Homo sapiens: one gene and its partner. The protein of the gene in region 1 purifies or fractionates together with the protein of each later gene. This does not show direct contact. Each region holds a gene or a part of one and is shown in the gene's direction. Other genes may lie near its edges.

Region 1 (3,822 bases):
CCCACCCTACTTTACCCTACTAGGTGGCAAAGCTGTGGTCTATAACAAGGGCATTGTCTCCTGGTGCTCCCAGTTACCAGTCTACTAGGTGACACAGCATAACAAGGAGTCTTCCTGAGTCAAAATTGTGCAGTGATCTGCAGAATGCTCCCTCCAGCTTGGTCATGCCTCTTTCACCTGGCATTTTCTATAAGCACTACCTATACAATCCCCCATCCTGCCCTAACCTGGTTTCAATGATGTGTGTAACCTTTCTCCATACAGAAGACAATATGGTATGTATAATAGTGTTTGGGAAAGGAGAAGGTGGGGAAGGAATTATACTTTCTGTGCATCCCTATGGGGACCTCTTTTGGGCACTAGAACCGTTCCTAAGCTGGTTAGTCCTCCTAATTGATTCCCTGTCCTCCATGGCTTCCTGGGAATGGTGGAATTTGTCCCTCGACCTTGCTCATTACCCAAGATCTTTGCACTCACAGGGAGGCATCTGTAACATCGCTGACAAGCAAGAGGTACATCCTGAGGTTCCCAGCGCTGGAGACACTGATGCTGGATGACAACAGACTCTCCAACCCCAGTTGCTTTGCCAGCCTGGCTGGGCTCAGGAGGTAAAGCCATAAGCCTTTCTCTGCTGGGCCTCCTCTAATCCCCAGGCTTGCTCACACTCTGAGTGCTGTTCTGGAAGCCAAAAGGTTTGGGTTTAAAGCCTAGCTCCACAATTTATCTCTACTGTGTGGCCATGGGTAAGTCATTTCTCCCCTCTGAGCTTTGGCTCCTCCATAAAAATGGCCATGAGTGAGGACATTTCTGATCACATGACTGAATTAGAAGCAGCAAAGAGAAAGGAAAACAGGAGGAGATTTTACCCAAGATAGGATTCGGACCCTGACAGTAGAGACAGGAAAATTTTTTAAAATATTGAGAATCAGAAAGAGAAATTTAATTCCTGAATTCTAACTGAAGTAAAGAAAATAGTGGCATTTACATTGTTAAGCTTTACTTCTCTGGAAAATTTACTTTGGTTTCAACTACCATTTACTGAATACTACTTTGTGCCAGGCCATTTACATATTGCCTCATTAAATCTTCACAAGAACCCTGAAAGGTTAATAAATATTATCCCCATTTTAGAGACAGGGATATTGAATCCCAGAGAGAGTAAGTCACCGGCTCAACGTCACACAAGAGGAATAAGTATCCAAGCCTGATTCCATGTTTTTTCCCTAAAGTTGCTTGGTAAACAATCCTGAGGTATCATTATTGCTATGATTCTATATTCACTTTCCTTAATTGAAGACTGAAGAAGTTAAGCTTGGATGAAAACAGGATTATCAGGATCCCATACCTACAGCAAGTTCAGCTCTATGACGAGTCAGTAGACTGGAATGGAGGCAGGGGAAGTCCCCATAAAGAGCCCCAATTCATGCTGCAGTCCAAGCCAAGGATGCTTGAGGACTCAGATGAGCAACTGGATTATACTGTACTGCCCATGAAAAAGGATGTTGACCGGACAGGTGAGTGACACCCCTTGTCCCAGAAATTCTACCCTCATGGTGGAAATACACTTCTGAGAGTTTATTCTGAAAGTCTCACTTGGTCATGGTGAATATCACGAATTGAATTTGCTGATTCTTTGTCAAGGATGTTTGCATCTATGTTTGGGAGATGTGTTGGTGTATTGATTTCTTTTGTTACAGTATTCTTGTTAGGATTTATAATCAAGGTTATGCTTGCCTGATAAAATGTGTTTTGGAAGTTTTATTTCTGTTTCCTAGGAAAGTTTATATACTATTATTATTTTATCCTTAAATTTTGGAAGAATTCACCATGAGACCACCTGAGCCTGGAGTTTTCTTTGTAGAATGAGGTTGAAATTATGCAACTTTAGAAGCTTGGAAGAGGTGCTCCTGACACCTGAAATTTAGACCTCTGGGGAAGCGGTGCTGCTTGGCTGCTGGTGTCTCCGAGCTATGATGGGCTTCATGTAGCTGAGACCCAGATCTCTGAGGATACTGGCCAGCTGGTGCTGGTGCCTGTGGAGGAGTCACAGTGAAGCTAGTTTATAAAAGTTGGAAAAACTGCAAACTAGATTCAGCTACTGCTGGGGAAAGACTTGCTAGACTACAGCAAAAACAAAACAAATCAAAAACCACATTATTCCAGTGGCATTCACAGGAAGCACAAGCAGTTAGGAAACCCATGGGAAGCAGATAGGAAGAGATAAGCCCCTTTTTCCTCTTCCAGCTTTGCAGTCTCCCTTTAGCACCACCCATATTGTCAGAGTCTAACAGGAAACCAGCGGTCAAAGCAGAAATACGGTTTTGAGAGCCTCAGCTCCAGCATTCTAAAGCAGAATAAAGAAAGATGGATTTCAAAGTTAAAAATAATACTAATAACTGGCCGGGCACAGTGGCAGTTATTTTGGGAGGCCAAGGCTGGAGAATTGTTTGAGGCCAGGAGTTTCAGGCATGCAGTGAGCTATGATCATGCCACTGCCCTCTGGCCTGGATGACAGAACGAGACCCTATCTCTATAAAAAATTAAAAAATTAGCTGGGTGTGATGGCATGCACCTATAGTCCTGGCTACTGGGGGCTGAGGCAGGAGGATCCCTTGAGCCTGTAGTGAGCTATGATCACGCCACTGCTCTCCAGCCTGGCAGCAGAGTGAGACCCTGTCTCTACAAATAATAATAGTAACAACTTAATAAAGGGCACAATTATGTTATTCAGATTCTCCCTAAAATAATTTTCTGTCTGCTTGGTTTGTTAACTTTGGAAATAGGTATATTAAAGTCTGTCCCCACTGTTGTAGATTTGTCAGTATCTCCTTGCATTTCTGGCTTTTTTTTTTTTTTTTTTTACTGTGAAGTTGGTTTGGTTCTCTGTTATTAGGTTTGTGACTTTTATCTTGGTAGGTTGTGTATTTTAATCGTTGTAAAATATCCCAGGTAGATAAATAATTTTGGTTTTGACTTGGGCCTCTATTTTGTTTGATATGAATATTTATTTTAGGATATCTTAAAAACAATATAGTACTGCATATTTTTGCTTATATGATTCTTAATGAGTCTTTTTTCATAGAAGAATTTAACTCACATGGTGATTATTGATACATTTCACCTTATTTCTACCATTAGTGTGTTTTCTATTTACCTATGCTTTTTCTTTTTTTTCTTCTTGTGAGCACTAAGTTTTCTTTCAATTCCAATCTTTTCACTAATTGTTTAAAGCAAGAAATCTCATGTCTGTATCTCTAATGGTTACCCTAAAACTTTTTTTTTTTTCTTTTTAGAGACAGAGTCTCACCCTATCACCCCAGGCTGAAGTGCGGTTACACGATCGTGCTCAAACTGTATTGTTGAACTCTGGGGCTCAAGTGATCCTCCTGCCTCAGCCTCCCAAGTAGCTGGGACCACTGCACCTGGCTATTACCCTAAAACTTTTAATTCACATTTTAAAACTCACTTTTGTCTATCAACACCTAGAATCAACCAAATACATGTCTTCTTTTTTAATAAGAAAATTTTAATATGCATCTATCTATGCCACCCTACTCCCATCACTTCCCATAATGTAATAAACTCTAACAATAATTTAGATTGGTTTTAATTTTTAAAATTATATACCAATGATTCTTTAGACTGAAAGATTGAACCTCATTCTTAGGTTCTTTATCATGTGTACATATGTATAACTTAGGAGCAGAGACTTCTGTTTACAATACAACTCAGGTCCTAATACAGTATAATTTTTAATCTCTTCAAAGTTCTTCTTACCCTCTTATTTTTTTTCTTTCATCCTTAATTCCTACTCCCATTTCC
Region 2 (3,822 bases), on another chromosome or scaffold:
TATGACAGTGTTCACATATTTATTTCTGGTGTGTGTGTAAAGAAAAAAATCTCATTTTCTTTCTTTTTTTTTTATTTTTATTTTGAGACAGAATCTCGCTCTGTCGCCCAGGCTCGAGTGCAGTGGCGCGATCTCGGCTCACTGCCAACTCCACCTCCTGGGTTCACGCCATTCTCCTGCCTCAGCTTCCCGAGTAGCTGGGACTACAGGCGCCCGACCACAACGCCCGGCTAATTTTTTGTATTTTTAGTAGAGACTGGGTTTCACCGTGTTAGCCAGGATGGTTTTTATCTCCTGACCTCGTGGTCTGCCCGCTTTGGCCTCCCAAAGTGCTGGGATTACAGGACTGAGCCACCATGCCCGGCCTTTTCTTTTTTTTTTTTTCCCGAGACTGAGTTTTACTCTGTCACCCAGGTTGGAGTATAGTGGCGTGATCTTGGCTTACTGCAACCTCTGTCTCGTGGGTTCAAGTGATTCTCCTGCCTCAGACTCCCCAGTAGCTGGGATTACAGGTGCGTGCCACCATGCCCGGCTAATTTTTTATTTTTTAATAGAGACGGGGTTTCACCATGTTGGCCAGGTTGGTCTTGAACTCCTGACCTCATGATCTTCCTGCCTCGGCCTCCCAAAGTGCTGGGATTACAGGTGTGAGCCACCGTGCCTGGCCAGTCATCTCATTTTCAACTTGCATCTACGTTCTTTCATTAATTTTGTGACTGAGTTGGAGAGGGCTTTTGCATAAACAGATTCATGATGGTGGTCCTAAATTATTCTGAAGACAGGCAAACCTGTCTGTAGATGAGCAGGTTTTTTGCATATGGCTTAAGAAAGTCTGGAAAATTGGCCAGGCATGCTGGCTTGCCTATAATTCCAGCACTTTGGGAAAGCGAGGTGGGAGGATCACTTGAGCCCAGGAGTTTGAGATGTGCCTGGGCAACATGGTGAAACCCTGTTTCTACAAAAAAATTTTAAAAATTAGCCAGGTGTGGTGGCACATGTCTGTAGTCCCAGCTACTTAGGAGGCTGAGGCAGGAGGATCGCTTGAGCCCAGGAGATCAAGGCTGCAGTGAGCCATGATTGCACCACTGGACTCCAGCCTGGGTGACTGAGCGAGACCCTGTCTCAAGAAAAAAAAAAGAGTGGAAAATAGAAATTGTCAAAGTTTACACTATACAGTATGTTATTTTCAGGAAAGCGAATGTTTTCACTTTAATCTTACATCTTGTTAATATACATTAAGCAGTAGAAACTTCCTCTTTGGTATTTGGAATGACTGTTGAGATTTCTGTTTCTGACATCTTCCCTAAGTGCTTACCTGTTGCCAGGCTTTCTCCATATCTGTCTCTTCCTCAGTGTTGCCCCTGGTTGAATAGGGAGAAGATAGGGAAAACCAGCAGTAATTATTTCAGAATTGTTCACCCAGTTTGGAGATTTTTTTCAAGCCCTTCCTTTTTTTATTTAATTTTTTTTTTTTAATTAAAAAAGGTCTTTTTTTTTTTTTTTTTTTTGAGGCAGAGTCTCACTCTGTCACCGAGGCTGGAGTGCGGTGGCACGATCACAGCTCACTACAGCCAGGACCTCCTGGGCTCAAGTGATCCTCCTGCCTCAGCTGGGACTACATGCTCATGTTACCACTCCTGGCTAATTTTTATTCTTTTTATGTAGAGACAGGGTTTTGCCATGTTGCCCAGGCTGATATCAAACTCCTGGCCTCAAGCGATCCTCCCGCCTTGGCCTCTCAAAGTGCTGGGACTGTGGGTATGAGCCACCATGCCAGGCAAGCCCTTTATTAGATGTCTGATTAGTATGTTGCTCCTTGCTAGCATTTTCCCTAAATATTTTAATGGAGAGAAAGTTGAAATAGAGTAGACATGTTTTTAATTCTTTCTTTGGTTGTTTTCCTTGCCACTGCTTTCTTTGGTTAGTTACCATCATAGATAATTGAGTCCTGATTCTACTTTTGTTAATCTTTTGCCAGTACCATCTGAAGGAGTTTCTTGTTTTTATATACTTTTTTTTTTTTTTTTTTTTTTTGAGGCAGTCTTGCTCTGTCACCCAGGCTGGAGTCCAGTGGTACAATCTTGGCTTACTGCAACCTCCACCTCCCGGGTTCAAGCGATTCTCCTGCCTTGGCCTCCTGAGTACCTGGGACTACAGGTGTGTGCCACCATGCCCAGATAATCTTTTGTATTTTTAGTAGAGATGGGGTTTTGCCATGTTGCCCAGGCTGGTCTCGAACTCCTGAGCTCAGGCAGTCCGCCCGCCTTGGCCTCCCAAAGTGTTGGATTACAGGCATGAGCCACCGTGCCTGGCCTGTTTTTATATACTTTAAAGTTTAAATTAAACTTGTTAAAGTATGTGTTTTGTATGATTTGCCAAAACATTGGAATACAAGTAGCTGTCATAAAGCCTTTTTTTTTTTTTTTTTTTTTTTTTTTTGAGACAGGGTCTCATTCTGTCACCCAGGCTAGAGTGCAGTGGCACAATTATGGCTCACTGTAGCCTTGGCCACCTCCCAGGCTCAATTGATCCTCCCACCTCAGCTTCCTGAGTAACTGGGACTACAGTTATGCACCACCACACCCAGCTAATTTTTAAATTTTTTGTAGAGATGGGGTTTTACCACGTTACCCAGGCTGTTCTGGAACTCCTGAACTCAAGCGATGCTCCTGCCTCTGCCTCCCAAAATGCTGGGATTACAGGCGTAAACCACTATGCCTGGACTCAAGCCGACTTTTTAACATGAACAATAAGTCTCTTTCTTCATCTCCCTTCCTATCCTGTATTCATCTTGCCTTGAAGACCACAGATAAATTTTAAAAAATGGAATCATGGTAAAGAGTGTTCTTGTGTCATTATTTAAACAAACACTAAACTTTGTATCTTGGAATGCTTTCCATATCAGACATACAGATTGATACGGGTTGGCTGTGTCCCCACCCAAATCTCATCTTGAATTCCCACATGTTGTAGGAGGGACCTGGTGGGAGGTGATTGAATCATGGGGACAGGTCTTTCTCATGCTGTTCTCATGATAGTGAATACGTCTCATGAGATTTGATGGTTTTAAAAAGGGGAGTTTCCCTGCATAATCTCTCCTCTTTTGACTGTCACCATCCATGTAAGAGGTGACTTTGCTCCTCCTTGCCTTCTGCCATGATTGTGAGGCCTCTGCAGCCACGTGGAACTGTAAGTCAATGAAACCTCTTTCCTTTCTAAATTACCCAGTCTTGGGTATGTCTTTATCAGCATTGCAAAAACAGACTAATACACAGATCTACTTTAGGTACAGATTTGCTTTACCATGTTCTTTTTTTAATATGCCTAGTATTACCTTGTGTGAAGGTGCCTGAATTTATTTAACTAGTTGATATGAAGAGTTTCCAGGTTTTTGTTATTTGTAACACAGTGCTACAGTAAACATTTTTGTACATATGTCTTAGTGAACTTTCATGAGTAACCACCTTACTCTCAGCAGCCTTAAAAAAATTGACCAACAAGTTTCTAACTACTCTGAATAATCATTTGTCATGTTAAAAATTTTCTTGGTGGCTATATTAGTTTTACTACTTTTGTTAAGGCCGGATGTTTTGTTTTCTGAAGTAGTCCTGTGAGATAATTTCATACAATTAAGCACAGATTTTTTATATTGCATGTAGAATATTAAGCTCATAAAGTTTATAAAGGCACAGGGTTGGCTTTATGAGCCTGTAATTGCATCATACAGGGCCCTTGCTTGCTTCAGTGATCTGCTGTTGTAGTCTTGATAGTCTTAGGTTTTTTTTTTTTTGTTTTTTTTTTTTGAGACAGAGTCTCACTCTG

The links.
Region 2: the proteins of XRRA1 (region 1) and KIAA0232 purify together in Homo sapiens (affinity purification with mass spectrometry; one large-scale study listed by BioGRID and IntAct). This does not show direct contact.

What each region holds. Positions count from the first base shown.
Region 1 is NC_000011.10:74,903,931-74,907,752, reverse strand, and holds part of XRRA1 (X-ray radiation resistance-associated protein 1), read left to right. Parts: intron 1-479; coding exon 480-608; intron 609-1,296; coding exon 1,297-1,514; intron 1,515-3,822. UniProt on the Homo sapiens protein: May be involved in the response of cells to X-ray radiation.
Region 2 is NC_000004.12:6,788,905-6,792,726, forward strand, and holds part of KIAA0232 (uncharacterized protein KIAA0232), read left to right. Parts: intron 1-3,822.